Linked DNA regions of Homo sapiens: region 2 is linked to region 1. The links come from fine-mapping of genetic effects on gene expression. A gene starts in region 1. The other region holds a variant in brackets. All regions are shown on one strand. Distances are between the middles of the regions.

The links. PIP is the estimated chance that this variant, and not a neighbour inherited with it, causes the effect.
Region 2: its variant is fine-mapped to the expression of RORB in blood mononuclear cells (TOPMed, PIP above 0.99).

The regions. Positions count from the first base shown.
Region 1 is chr9:74,492,852-74,500,977 of GRCh38, forward strand. It overlaps RORB (RAR related orphan receptor B), which reads left to right and starts at 4,484. Exons shown (of 10, transcript NM_006914.4): 1 at 4,484-5,132. The coding sequence starts at 5,126. It overlaps RORB-AS1 (RORB antisense RNA 1), which reads right to left and starts at 5,702. Exons shown (of 5, transcript NR_125791.1): 1 at 5,391-5,702. RefSeq lists silencers at 4,120-4,332, 4,328-4,517, 4,422-4,716 and enhancers at 6,386-7,162, 7,221-7,721.
Region 2 is chr9:74,223,217-74,231,342 of GRCh38, forward strand. All of the region lies in intron 2 of LOC101927329 (a long non-coding RNA gene), which reads right to left. Among named protein-coding and RNA genes, the nearest start is that of RORB, 270 kb to the right of the region's middle. The variant A/G (reference allele first, on the strand shown) is at 4,375.

The DNA of each region.
Region 1 (8,126 bases):
TGACCTGTATGTTTTGTCTTTGTTCCAAAGCTAGCCTTACCTCTCCCACATACTGGGGTTAATTCATGCTTTGGCCCTTATCACCTTTTCCAATTTATTTCAAAATTACATGCTCTATTTTAATATTTGCTTTCTTTTTTTTATTTTGAAAACTTATTGAACTTGCATCTACACTTTAAAATGAAGCAGAACTTAAAGAACTCAAAGATTATGAAGAAGACTCAGTACCTGGGAATAAAATTGAGAATAGGGCTGGGTGTGGTGGCTCACGTCTGTCATCTCAGCACTTTCGGAGGCTGAGGCAGGCAGATCACTTGAGGTCAGGAGTTTGAGAACAGTGTGGCCAACATGGTGAAACCCCGTCTCTACTAAAATACAAAAATTAGCCAAGCATGGTGGTGGTCACCTGTAATCCCAGCTACTCAGGAGGCTGAGGCAGGAGAATCACTTGAACCCAAGAGGTAGAGGCTGCAGTGAGCTGAGACTGTGCCACTGCACTCCAGCCTCCAGCGAGACTTCCTTTCAAAGAATAAATAAATTAATTAAGAATAGTAATAAATATGAAAATAACTAAATTTTAGCTTCCTTTTATGACTATATAACCAATCTCAACCATTATTTTTTGCTTCCCCAAATTAGGAGAGTTTAAAATGCAGATTCTCCCCACTCTCCTCTTCCCATTCAATAGAAACTGAGAAAGAAGGATCTTATTCAGGTCTTCACTCCATTTGTGATTCATATTCAGTGGCTGAAAGGTTAGAAAGCATTCACTCCACCAATAATGATCAAGCACCCATAAAGTACCAGGAGCTCTTACAAACTCTAGGGAAATCCTGGCTCCTGTTGTCATGAATTTTGCATTCTCAGGTAGGAAATGTGGCTCTGATGCCTGCTGGGGCAGTGGTAGCAACCTTTAGTCCATGTGAATGCAGGCATCCCTTGGTATGCACGGGGGATTGGTTCCAGGACCTCCCACCGATACCAAAACCCACAGATATTCAAGTTTCTGCTATAAAATGGTGTGTAGTATTTGCATGTAACCTATGCACATCTTCCTATATACTTTGCATCATCTCTAGATTACTTATAATGCCAATGTCAACACTATATAAATAATTATTATACTGTATTGTTTAGGGAACAATGACAAGAAAAATATCTGTACATGTTCAGTACAGACACAATTTATTTTTGCTCTGCTCTTGGTTGAATCCACAGTTGTGGAACCCATGGACATAAAGGCCAACTGTACACTTAGAGCTACAGAGGATCTTGGAGGTAATCTAGACAATTTCTACCCTAGTATAGAAATCTGTATACTAGAGCATCTCTAACAGAACCTTTCATTCAACCCTTTTTTGGATGCCTTCAGCAACAGGGAACTCAGTACTTCCCTTCCCACTTGTAAAAGGTTTGAATGTTAAAAGTTCTTACATTTTTCTGGCTTTTCTAATATTTAATAGCAGCTTTATATCTCTTTCCCAATTTTCACAGCCACACAGCTCCCTAAATAGAGTTAAACATAACCAATCTTTCAGTCATTCCTAAAAGTAACATTGTTATCAGTATTGCTAATGTCCATTCAAGAGTCTTAATTATTTAAAATATTCCCTGACCAGTGAATATTCTGACTTATCAGCTCAGAATAACATGAACTATGACTTCCTGTTTAAGCCTTTTAGGATTGAAATAATCCTAAATGCCATGGTCACCCTACCTGGTTGGCTTATATTAAAACTTTGCCTCTTTCAGGATATTTGTTGTCATTCCTATTCTGTGGTACAGCTCAACCTGAGGGGTGCTAATGTGTCAGAAAAACAGGTAAGCAGGCAAGCCTAAGTGGAATCTGATGTCAATTCTTGAGATTGAGGACAGTGCTATGTGACTGATTGTCATTTAAATTAATCAACATGCAACTGTCAACTTAGAAAATCCTTCAGGCCCAGAGTGAAAAGCAGAGTTTCAAGCTTATAGGAAACCAGACATAATCATTCAAATAAAATTACTGATACCGTACTTCATATGAGCTAGGACATTACAGTAATGTATTATTATTATGCCACTTGAAATATGATTATTTGCTGGCAGATAGGTTACAAAACCATCAGATTATATATATGTGCTTTGTGAGTTCTTAGAAAATACTGACTTCTTTCATTCAAATTCTTAATATTTATTTTAAATAAATGGGCTCCATTCAGTGAAATAAATGTGAAAATTATTAGAAATATTCAACAAACCAGTTTTTAAATTTTTAGAAAGATCCAAAATGTCCCAGGCCGCCACATTATAACCAATGATTAGCATTTAAAGAGAAAATACATACTTTTGTATCACCATATATAGAGATTATATACATAGTTTTGAAAAATGAAATAATATAGTCTTCTAATTAATAATTTCTCCAAAAATACTCAGAAGGAATTAAGAAATATGTTCTAAGCAAAATTATGCCTTGCTGAAACCACAAAATAAAGAGAATATAAAAATGTATGGGGGGGTAAATACTTTTTATACACGTGTTGACTACCTTTTTCAAGGATTACAGATATTGCAGCATTAAAAAAAAATTCAGAATTCAATAAATGTTTAGAAAGTTAAAATTACATAAATGTTTAAATTTTTGGATTTTGAAATTCCTGTTCACTCTAAAGAGAAATAGAAATCTAAAATGATAACAACAACAATAATAATTAGACAATGTTTACAAAGCCTTTGGAATTTTCAATATTCTTGTGTCTCTGCTTGAAGCAACAAAATTAAAATGATATAGTCACAATTTGTTTCTTGACTATTTTATATTCAGTAATTTTTAATGAAGCAACTAAATTAGGCATAACTTTGTACAGCTTTAACATAGTTATGATGAATATATTTTACTTGATTAAAAATGATAAAACCAGGGAGCCTTAAATATTATCTTAAAAGATTAACTACTGTGTCAATTACAAATCTAGGAGAAAGATATTTATAAAGGAATAACTATTCTAAACAGTAACTTCCTTTTGTTCATTTCATTTAATTAATGACTCAATCAACTTTCACTCTTAATACTAAAATTTTCCTAAATTACACATTGGTTTGCAAATGGGATGGCATATAGCAGGGCTACGTCAATTTAATACTGGTGAAAATTCAGCAGATAATTCATTTTTCATTTAATCAGGAAGGAAAAAACTACTTGGCAGTGTAGAGCGACCTAATTAACTAAATAACTGCCAATTCTACATTGTACTTTGTGTTACATGACATATCATGAATAAATACCAGTCAAAAATCAAATTATTTGGATACTTAAATGATGATGAGGCCTGCTGTGCCAACAGGTATGCTAATGAGTAGACATCTCCCAGCCTCAAGACTGAGTGAATGAGGCAAATATTTTCACCTCCCAATCTTTTAGGGTGTTCAATTAACTCAAGTATTTAAGAAGTTCCCTACTATTGGGAAGGAAGTAGATGTAATCATCTATATGCTTATTTTGTCAACTGAGTTGGAAAAACTTGCAAAGGAACAGTTTGGATATATGTATTAGATTTTTATCAAAATACAAATAAATGGTCATAGATGACAATTTTCACCTAAGGAATACAAGTAAGTTTATCTATGTTCAGTTACCAATCGCCTCTAACTAAAGTTAACAATGTCTTCCTTCTAAAACCTTTCTAAAGAGCACCCTGCAATCACACCTTCTAGCAACAGCCATTTCTCTTGAATTAGTAAGGTGGCTACACCGCCAATTTGAGCTGTTCTCCTTCAGTCCTGTAGTCCATCGCCAGGGGAGTCTCCAAATGCTAATAAAAATCAATTTCCCAGACAAAAGAACATATACACGTTTTTTTCTTTCTTTCTTTCTTTTTTTTTTTTTTTTAGAAGAGGGTCAGGGAGCATCTGACGGACGTTTTTAAAGGAAGGGGACAGCTACTTCCATGGGACTGCATTTTAGTTGTGCTAAAAGTGATGAAAGTGGGTTTGCATTATTCTACCACCAACACCCAAACCACCTGCCCACGGAAACCCCCGCCGGAGACCGAAGTTTACCCAAATAGCGCTCGGCAAAGCGCTGCCATAAATTCAAAACTAACTCTGCCGGGCCCGCGGGGGTTGCGAGACAGGGACCGAACGTGAAACCCGGGGAGCCCCGCGTCTCTTGCCTCCGAAGGTTTTCCGTGATCAGTGTCCCCTTCTCTGCTGGAGTCGGAAGTGCCTGTCACCTGCGGATCTGCCCGACTCTCCCGGTCGGCCCTTCTTCTCTGCCCAGTTCGGACAGTCTCGAATTCCCCGTCGCAGCCCCGGCCACCTCGGACTCCCTGGTCCCCAGCCCCCGCCCCACCCCCCGCCTCCACCACGTCCCCTCCCCGCGGTCCCAGCCTCTCCAGGCGCTGCTGGGCTCTGATTGGCGGCTGCGCTGACAGCAGGCGGGGCCTGGAAGTCGCGGCCAAGCCCGCCCTCGCGTATAAGCCCCTCTCAGCGCTCTCTCTCCATCTCTCCCCTCTCTTTCTCTCTCGCTGCTCCCTTCCTCCCTGTAACTGAACAGTGAAAATTCACATTGTGGATCCGCTAACAGGCACAGATGTCATGTGAAAACGCACATGCTCTGCCATCCACACCGCCTTTCTTTCTTTTCTTTCTGTTTCCTTTTTTCCCCCTTGTTCCTTCTCCCTCTTCTTTGTAACTAACAAAACCACCACCAACTCCTCCTCCTGCTGCTGCCCTTCCTCCTCCTCCTCAGTCCAAGTGATCACAAAAGAAATCTTCTGAGCCGGAGGCGGTGGCATTTTTTAAAAAGCAAGCACATTGGAGAGAAAGAAAAAGAAAAACAAAACCAAAACAAAACCCAGGCACCAGACAGCCAGAACATTTTTTTTTCACCCTTCCTGAAAACAAACAAACAAACAAACAATCATCAAAACAGTCACCACCAACATCAAAACTGTTAACATAGCGGCGGCGGCGGCAAACGTCACCCTGCAGCCACGGCGTCCGCCTAAAGGGATGGTTTTCTCGGCAGAGCAGCTCTTCGCCGACCACCTTCTTCACTCGTGCTGAGCGGGATTTTTGGGCTCTCCGGGGTTCGGGCTGGGAGCAGCTTCATGACTACGCGGAGCGGGAGAGCGGCCACACCATGCGAGGTAAGCGAGTCTGCGGGCACCGAGGCTCCCCGAGTCCGGCCAACTCCAGCCAGACGGGGAGATGGGGGAGGGGAGGGCACCCAGCAGAAAGGGAAAGAGGTTGCCCAGGCGCAGTTCCCCGAATTCGCTCTCGCAGGTGGGGCTGCAAATGGCCTGGGCGTAGAAAGTTGCGGGAAGGTGTTGATGTCTTTCGGGAGTTCTGGAGGGACGCGGGAGGGCGCTTTTTTGGAGAGGGGAGACAGGCTAGTTGGTTCTTACCAGTCCTTGAGTTGCACTGAATCTTTTTTGCTTGTCGCTCTCGGGTGCGGAAGCGGACGCGGGATGGAGAAAGCCGAAAGAGGGATGCCTCTGGACAGGAGCAGTTTGGAAGCGCCCGGCGCGCAGTGGTCGCCGGCCGGGTTTGGGCGCGCGGGGCGCACCGGCCGGGGGCAGGGTGGACACGCGCGGGCACACACTCGCCAGGTTACGAGGCCCACTAAGCGTCCTGGCCAGCAGGCATGTCCCTTCGCTGGAGTAGCAAGCAGAAGAGCAGTGCTGCGAGGCTGGACGCGGCTGAGGAAACAGTTAGTTCCCCGGCACGCGGCTGAGGAAACAGTTCTGCGGCGCGCGCCTTCGTGCCGGCGCTGCGCCCTGGCCAGGTCCTCGTGCCCGAGCCCGCGCGGCCCAGGGAGTAGTGCGACCCCGGAAAAGTTGTAATGAGAAAGTTCTGGAGGCTTGGAAAGGCCACACTGCTCACAGTCGGAGAGTCATGGGCTCCGGCTCTTTTGTCAGATAAAGGGCCGGTAGTGGAAGGAGGTGCTGGTGCACCCTCGGGCCAGGACCCTCGCAGTCGCAGGCGGTGGCGGCGGCGGCGGCGGGACCCCGGGGCGAGCTGGGGTCTGCAGGGATGCGCGCCAGGGACTGTAGCGTTACGCTTGCTCCGGCTGGACTCTGGGCCTCTCGAAGGGCTGGAGGGTGGGTTTCGGGGAGTCACTTGGTCTCCTCTCCTGCCTTGCCGGAGACCTCAGGTTTCCTTCGCGCTGTGCTCGGCCTTTCTTCACTCTTTTACTGAAGAGCCAGGCGGGTGTCCGCTTGACATGGGGATCTGTGCAAGCTCTGGGCACCCACCCCCACTCCCAGTCCCTCTTCCTGGCCACACAGCGGTTAATCGGGGGCTCTTCTCTATCCTTCGCACGTACCCCTGGGTCTTGACAACAGAAAGTTAGTAACGGCCAGCTCCAGACCTTCTTGCATCCCAGACCCGGAGAGAGGTGGTCTAGGCAGGGAGCACTTGGGAGAGTTGGGATGCAATCACTGGTCTCCTCCTTCCACTGAAAGTGATCCTCTCCCACCCAGTCCCCCTACGCCCCTAGAGGAGCACCCCAGGAGGCAGCGGGTCTCACTCCCACTCCCTCCCGCACCCGGTGAGCCCCGAGCCTGGACTCAAGGGTTTGCTGGCTGGACGCTGGGATGTGTCAGGAAAGGGAAGGAGAAGAAGGAACGGAGAGAGACTGTCCATGGGGGAGGGGGTTGACTGTAGATAAGAAACAAGGACGTCCTGATGGGATGGTCTTGATTGGCCGGCTCGCTGGGAGTGGGGCACCCGTGTGTGTGCGCGCTGGCTCCAGCTGATTGTCCCGGTTGGGGGTTGGTTACACGCTCCACTGTCTAAATTCTTTCAAGAAACTATACTTGGGCAATTGGAGAGTAGAGAACCTTGGCTTAGTAAGAGACGCCCGGTCTTTTGTTTTTCTTTTTCTAGCCCATCTCACCATCCCATCCATTCTTTCGGTTTCCCCCGTCCCAGTCCAGAGCTGCCAGTTCGTCCCTCCCCTTCTTCCCTTCTAACTTTCCCCCTGTGGCTGGGTTCATACTTTCTGAACGTCGTAAACTATGCGCCACCTCAGCTCGGACCCAGCACTAGGACCTAGGGCATAAAATCCGCTCACTCCTTACATCGTAGAAGGAGTGCGGCGCGGGGTGGGGATGGGTTGTAGCTTGATCTAGCATCTCCTGAAGGAGCAGTTTGCAGATGACTGTCCTGGTTCGCCACGGCGGTCGCTTTGAGGACTCCAGAAGCTGGAAGGATTGAAAGCCAGGCGCTGGTCCTCATGCTCACCTTGAGAAAACCAGTTTAAGCCCACAGACCTATCAAAGAGGGCGCCAGCCTCGCCAGGCGCCCTAGGACCCCTTACAACTTCTAACTTGAGGCAGCTCTCAGGCGGCCTTAGGGGAATGCGCTGGAGAAAATGTAAGCTTAAAAGATGACCAGGTCACTCTATCGCCATTCCTGGTTGCCCTTTCCTGACCCCTAGTGTCTTTCCTTACTACCTCTTCATATTTTCCCCGGACAGTGCCCTACCACAGTATGAGAGGCTGTTCCGTAAGAATGGGATTGAGAAAAGATCCAGGCTACTCTGACGTCTTGTGGAGTTGGGAGTTGAACTTGAGAGTGAACTTGAGAAGTGAAAGCGGGAAAAGAATCAGCTTTCGCTCGTGCAGGGCTACTAAGCACCCTATGTTGGGAGAGGGGCCATTTTTGACCTGGGCTTTACGGTGGGCCCACTGCATTTCCCTCATCCACACGCGCGCGCTTTCCATTCCCAGGTGGTCCTAGTTAGCGCCTGGGCTCCACAGTTTGCAGCTGACAACTGTCCTGAATCAGGGCGCTTTGAGCGACGGAAAGGTGATCTGGGATTCAGTGGTCTCCCTCGGGGCCAATCCGGCAAACCTATTCCCACCCCCTACTCCTCCCCCGCCTAGGGCATTTAAGAGACTATCCCCAGGGAAGCTACGGGGAAAGAAAGGGGTTAAGAGTCCCTGATCTTTGACGTCCTTGTCCTGCCCCACGGCTGAACTGAGTCCCGGACACAGCGCAGTTGCTTACTCTAGCCTGGGGCGGAGGAGGTTGTATTTGGTGGCGCACAAAGCCTTTCATCCTTTGTCTGTGAGAGGGTACCACAGAAGTTCTAGAGAGGCTTCTCCGTAGATTTCATTACTGAAAGGAATAACTTC
Region 2 (8,126 bases), 270 kb before region 1:
TTTGAAAACTGGCACAAAACAAGGATGCCCTCTTTCACGACTCCTATTCAACACAGTATTGGAAGTTCTGGCCAGGGCAATCAGGCAAGAGAAAGAAATAAAGGGTATTCAATTAGGAAAAGAGGAAGTCAAATTGTCTCTGTTTGCAGATGACATGATTGCATATTTAGAAACCTCATTGTCTCAGCTTAAAATCTCCTCAAGCTGATAAGCAACTTCAGCAAAGTCTCAGGATACAAAATCAATGTGCAAAAATCACAAGCATTCCTATAAACCAAGAACAGACAGAAAGCCAAATCATGAGTGAACTCCCATTCACAATTACTACAAAGAGAATAAATTCCTAGAAATCCAACTTACAAGGGATAGGAAGGACCTCTTCAAGGAGAGCTACAAACCACTGCTCAAGAAAATTAGAGAGGACAGAAACAAATGGAAGAATATTCCATGCTCATGGATAGGAAGAATCAATATCATAAAAATGGCCATACTGCCCTAAGTAATTTATAGATTTAATGCTATCTCCATCAAGCTACCACTGACTTTTTTCACAGAATTGGAAAAAAACCCTTTAAATTTCATATGGAACAAAAAAAGAGCCCACATAGCCAAGACAATCCTAAGCAAAAAGAACAAAGCTGGAGGCATAATGCTACCTGACTTCAAACTATACTACAAGACTACAGTAACCAAAACAGCATGGTACTGGTACCAAAACAGAGATATAGACCAATGGAAGAGAACAGAGGCCTCAGAAATAACACCACACATCAACAACCATCTGACCTTTGATAAAGCTGACAAAAAGAAGCAATGGGGAAAGGATCCCCTATTTAATAAATGGTGCTGGGAAAACTGGCTAGCCATACGTAGAAAGCTGAAACTGAATCCCTTTCTTACACCTTATACAAAAATTAACTCAAGATGGATTAAAGACTTAAATATAAGACCTAAAACTATAAAAACCCTAGAAGAAAACCTAGGCAATACCATTCAGGACATAGGCATGGACAAATACTTCATGATTAAAATGCCAAAAGCAACAGTAACAGAAGCCAAAATAGACAAATGCCATCTAATTAAACTAAAGAGCTTCTGCACAGCAAAAGAAACTATCATCAGAGTGAACAGGAAACCTACAGAATGGCAGAAAATTTTTGCAATCATCCATCTGTCAAAGGGCTAATATCCAGAATCTACAAAGAACTTAAACAAATTTACAAGAAAAAAACAAACAACCCCATCAAAAAGTGGGCAAAGGATATGAACAGACACTTCTCAAAAGAAGACATTTATGCAACCAACAGATATAAGAAAAAATGCCTGTCATCATTGGTCATCAGAGAAATGCAAATCAAAACCACAATGAGATACCATCTCACCCCAGTTAGTTAGATTGGTGATAATTAAAAAGTCAAGAAACAACAGATGCTGGAGAGGATGTGGCTATGCGGGCTCTTTTTTTGTTCCATATGAAATTTAAAGGGTTTTTTTCCAATTCTGTGAAAAAAGTCAGTGGTAGCTTGATGGAGATAGCATTAAATCTATAAATTACTTAGGGCAGTATGGCCATTTTTATGATATGGATTCTTCCTATCCATGAGCATGGATAGGAACACTTTTACAGTGTTGGTGGAGTGTAAACTAGTTCAACCATTGTAGAAGACAGTGTGGCAATTCCTCAAGGATCTAGAACCAGAAATACCATTTGACCCAGCAATCCCATTACTGGGTATATACCCAAAGGATTATAAATCATGCTACTATAAAGACACATGCACACGTATGTTTACTGTGGCACCATTCACAATAGCAAAGACTTGGAACCAACCCACATGTCCATTAATAATAGACTGGATAAAGAAAATGTGGTACACGTACACCATGGAATACCGTGCAGCCATGAAAAAGAATGAGCTCATGTCCTTTGCAGGGACATGGATGAAGCTGGAAACCATCATTCTCAGCAAAAGATCACAAGGACAGAAAACCAAACACCGCATGTTCTCACTCATAAGAGGGAACTGAACAATGAGAACACATGGACACAGGGAGGGGAACATCACACACTGGGGTCTGTTGGGGGGTGGGGGGCTAGGGGAGGGGTAGCATTAAGAGAAATACCTAATGAAATGACGAATTGATGGGTGCAGCAAACCAACATGGCACATGTATACCTATGTAACAAACCTGCACATTGTGCACATGTACCCTAGAACTTAAAGTATAATAATAAAAAAGGCAAAAAAAAAAAGAACAAAACCTCCAAGAAGTTTGAAATTATGTTAAACAACCAAACCTAAAAATAATTGGTGTTCCCAAGGAATAAGAGAAAACCAAAAGTTTGGAAAACATTTGAGGAAATAATCAAGGAAAACTTTTCTGGCCTTGCTAGAGATCTAGACATCCAAATACAAGAAGCTGAAAGAACACCAGAAAATTCAGTGCAAAAAGATCATCGCCTAGGCACGTAGTCATCAGGTTATCTAAAGTTAAGATGAAGGAAAGAATCTTAGGAGCTGTGAGGCAAAAGCATGAGGTGACCTATAAAGGAAAACCTATCAAATTAACAGAACATTTCTTAGCAGAAACCCTACAAGCTAGAAGGGATTGGGGTCCTATTTTTAGCCTCCTTAAACAAAACAATTGTCAGCCATGAATTTTACATCCAGGGAAACTAAGCTTCATAAATGAAAGAAACAAATGCTGAGAGAATTCATATGAACAAATGCTTTTTCAGATGAACAAATGCTGAGAGAATTCGCCACTACCAAGCCAGCTTTACAAGAGCTGCTAAAAGGCACTCTAAGTCTTGAAACAAAACCTTGAAATACACCAAAATAGAACCTTCTTGAGTATAAATCTCACAGGACCTATAAAACAATAACACAATGAGAAAAAAAAAGGTATTCAGGCAACAACTAGTATGATGAATTGAATAGTACATCACATCTCAGTACTAACAGTGAATATAAATGACCTAAATGCTCCACTTAAAAGATACAGAAAGTCAGAATGGATAAGAATTCACCAACCATCTGCTGTCTTCAAGAGACTCACCTAGCAGGTAAGGATTCACATAAACTTAAGGTAAAGAGGTGGAAAAATTATTCCCAAAGTTAGAGGAAGTAGCTACACTTATACCAGACAAAACAGATGTTAAAGCAACAATGGTTAAAAAAGACAAAGAGGGACATCAAATAATGATTGAAGTTCTAGTCCAACAGGAAAACATCACAATCCTAAATATATACACACTTAATACTGGAGTTACCAAACTTATAAAACAATCACTACTCGACCTAAAAAATGAGATAGGCCAGGTATGGTGGCTCACACCTGTAATCCCAGCACTTTGGGAGGCTGAGGTGGGTGGATCACGAGGTCAGGAGTTCAAGGCCAGCCTGGCCAATGTGGTGATACCTCATGTTTACTAAAAATACACATGGTGGTGCATGCCTGTAGTCCCAGCTACTCGGGAGGCTGAGGCAAAAGAATCACTAGAACCCAGGAGGCAGAGGTTGCAGTGAGCCAAGATCGTGCCACCACACTCCAGCCTGGGCAACAAAGCAAGACTCTGTCTCAAAAAAAAAAAAAAAGAAATTATAAAGACAGCAAAACAGTAATAGTGGGTGACTTCAGTACTCCACTGACAGCACTAGAGAGGTCATCAAGACAGAAAGCCAACAAAGAAACAATGGACTTAAACTATACCCTAGAACAAATGAAGTTAACAGATATTTACAAAGCATTTTACCCAACAACTGCAGAATACACATTCTATTCATCAGCACGTGGAATATTTTCTAACATAGGCCACATGATAGGCCACAAAACAAGTCTCAATAAATTTAAGAAAATTAAAATTCTATCAAGTACTCTCTCAGACCACAGTGGAATAAAATTAGAATTCAACTCCAAAAGGAACCCTGAAAACCCTGCTAATACATGGAAATTAAATAACCTGCTATTGAATGATCATTGGTTCAACAATGAAATCAAGATGGAAATTTAAAAATTCTTTGAACTGAAAGATAATAGTGACATAACCTATCGAAACCTCTGAGATACAGCAAAAGCGGTGCTAAGAGGGAAGTTTATAGCATTAAATGCCTACAACAAAAAGTCTGAAGGAGCTCAGATAGACAATCTAAGTTCACACATCAAGGAACTAGAGAAACAAGAACAAATCAAACCAAACCCAACAGAAGAAAAAAAATAACAAAGATCAGAGAAGAACTAAATTAAATTGAAACAAACAAAAAAAGCAATACAAAAAATAAATGAAACAAAAAACCGATTCTTTGAAAAGATAAACAAAACTGACAGACCAGTAGCGAGATTAACCAAGAACAGAAAAGAGAAGATCCAAAT[A/G]AGCTCAATTAGAAACAAAAAGGGAGATATTACAACTGATACCACAGAAATACAAAAGATCATTCAAGGCTACTATGAACACCTTTATTCTCAAAAACTGGAAAACCTAGAGGAGATGGATAAATTTTTGGAAATATACAACCCTCCAAGATTAAACCAGGAAGAAGTAGAAACTCTGAACAGTCCCATAACAAGCAGCAAGATTGAAATGGTAATTTTAAAAATTGCCAACAAATAAAAGTCCAGGAACAGATGGATTCATAGTTGAATTCTATCAGACATTCAAAAAAGTATTGGCTCCAATCCTGTTGACACTATTCCACAAGATACAGAAAAAAGGAATCCTCCCTAAATCATTCTGTGAAACTAGTATCACTCTAATTCCAAAACTAGGAAAGGACATAACAAAACAAAACAAAAACTACAGACCAATATTCCTAATGAACATAGATGCAAAAATCTTCAACAAAATACAAGCTAACTGAATCCAACAGCATATCAAAAAGATAATTCACCATGATCAAGTAGGTTTCATACTAGGGTTGCTGGAATGGTTTAACATACCAAGTCAATAAATGTGATACACCACATAAACAGAAATAAAAACAAAAATCACATGATCATCTCAATAGATGAAGAAAAAGCATGTGACAAAATCCAGCATTGTTCTAGTATTAAAGCCCTCGCAAAATTGGCATAGAAGGGATGTACCTTAAGGTAATAAAAGCCATCTATGACAAACCCACAGCCAACATTATACTGAATAGGGAAAAGTTGAACGTTTTCCCCCTGAGAACTGGAACAAGACAAGGATGCCTATTTTCACCACTTCTATTCTACATAGTACCAGAAGTCCTAAGCAGAGCAATCAGACAAGAGAAAGAAATAAGGGGGATCCAAACAAGCAAACAAGTAATCAAACTGTTGTTGTTCACCAATGATATAATTGTACACTTAGAAAACCCTAAAGATGGCCGGGCATGGTGGCTTAAGCCTGTAATCCCAGCACTTTGGGAGGCCAAGGTGGGTGGATTGCCTGAAGTCAGGAGTTTAAGACCAGCCTGACCAACATGGTGAAACCCCATATCTACTAAAAATACAAAAATTAGCCAGGTGTGGTGGCAGACGCCTGTAATCCCAGCTACTCAGGAGGCTGAGGCAGGAGAATCACTTGAACCTGGGAGGCACAGGTTGCAATAAGCTGAGATCAGGCCATTGCACTCCAGCCTGGGTGACAAGAGCAAGACTTCATCTCAAAAAGAAAAGAAAAGAAAACCCTAAAGACTAATCCAAAAAGCTCCTAGAACTGATTTAAAAATTCAGTAAAGTTACAAAATAAATGTAAAAAATCAGTAGCACTGCTATATACACCAACAGCAACCAAGCTGAGACTCGAATCAAGAACTCAAGCCCTTTTACAATAGCTATAAAAAATAAAATAAAATACTTAGGTACACACTTAACCAAGGAAGTGAAAGACCTCTACAAGGAAAACTACAAAACATGCTGAAAGAAATCATAGAAGACACAAACAAATGGAAACACATCCCATGCTCATGGATGGGTAGAATCAATATTGTGAAAATGACCACACTGCCAAAAGTAATCTACAAATTCAATGCAATTTCCATCAAAATACCATCATCATTCTTCACAGAACTAGAAAAACCAATTCAAAAATTATGTGGAATCAGAAAAGAGCCCATATAGCCAAACCAAGATGAGGCAGAAAAAACAAATCTGGAGGCATCACATTACCCAACTTCAAACTATACTACAAGGCTGTAGTTGCCAAAACAGCATGGTATTGGCATAAAAATAGACACAAAGTCCAATGGAACAGAATAGAGAACACAGAAATAAAGTTAAACACTTACAGTCAACTGATCTTCAACAAAGCAAACAAAAACATAAAATGGGGAAGGACACCCTATTCAACAAATGGTGCTGGGATAATTGGCAAGCCACATGTAGAAAAATGAAACCATATCCTCATCTCTCACCTTACACAAAAATCTACTCAAGATGGATCAAAGACTTAAATCTAAGATCTGAAATCATAAAAATTATAGAATATAACATTGGAAAAACCCTTCTAGACATTGTCTTAGGCAAAGACTTCATGACCAAGAACCCAAAAGCAAATCTATTATATAGATATAGTTATATAGATATACATAATGGAATACTACTCAGCCATAAAAAGGAGTGAAATAATGGCATTTGCAGCAATCTGGATGGAACTGGAGATCATTATTCTAAGTGAAGTAACTCAGGAATGGAAACCCAAACATTGTATGTTTTCACTTATAAATAGGAGCTAAGCTATGAGAACACAAAGGAATAGAATGATAAAATGGACTTTGAGGACTTGGGGGAGTGCGAGGTGGCAAGGGATAAAAGACTACACATTGGGTACAGTGTACACTGCTTGGGTGATGGGTGCACCAAAATCTCAGAAATCACACCTAAAGAACTTATCCATGTAACCAAACACCACCTGTTTCCCCAAAAATCTACTGAAATTAAATAAATAAATAATTTGTTAAAAATTTGGTGGAAATTTATTATAATCAGCAGTTGACATGAAAATTTGGTTATTTGTGATGTACTACATAAGAAGTATAATTATGACTGATGTCATATAAAATTTCAAAGAATTTTATACAATTTTTGAGCATTTATTATCAATAACATAGTCATAAATGTTACAAAAAGATCTAGCATCACTTATCACTTGACAATGCTTTTTTTTACAATTTACCAAATAATCCTAATTGTTTACTATCTCTACAAGATGAGAGACACATCCCGTGGGGCTCTCCAGGGTACCAACTGAAAACCTCAAAGTTAACTCTATCTCAAAATGACTTAATTTAAACTTTTAATGCTGGGAAGCCAGTTGAAGATGGCAAAATATTTAAAACAACTGATCTAAACAAAATCACAAATCACTGTGAAATGATAGCCATATTTTCACCAGAGTAACATAAAAAGATTTTAAAAGCAATACAGAAAGTTATATAGATTTAAAAAAATTCTAACCCTTTCAAAGCTCAGTTTTCCTAAGTAATCTAAAAATCTAATTAAGTCAACATGAAACATAGAAAATTATCTTGATAAAATATAAAATCTTTGTTTCTTACACCAGTTACCAAAAGGAAAACACACAAAAACCCACCTACCCACACAAAACACAAAGACAAAACATCGTCTCTCAGAGTATGATTGTGTCCCTTTGTGGGAAGCCTGTTTTGACTTCAGGTTTATATAGAAAGCATAACAAAAATTAGGTGTGTCTTTGGTAAAAAATATAAAAGCAAATATATGTTATTTATTTTTTAAATTGGCTAAATTTACAAGTTATTTAAAGTTGTGTAAAATGTGCAAGAGGTTTTGAAGTCAAACCTGATGGAAAAGTACTTGAATTTGATCAGAAACAAGAAGAGTATGTGTCCAGGATTTTGATTGTACACCATATCATAGAAAAACATAAACAAGAAAGCCAGTATCTTGAGCAGGAAAGTACATGGCTATTAGTAAAAACATGGGAAATTGCCTTGCTAGTTACCTGGCGCAATTCAGACACATCAATAAAAGCCAAGAGTACAGAATCAAATTATACTGGAGAGAAACATTGTTCTAAACTGGAAGCTGCAGTTCTGATGGTGGTTGAAAATTTTTAAAAACAGATTTCAGAATTACATCAAAACCTCTTGCACATTTTACACAACTTTAAATAACCTCTAAAT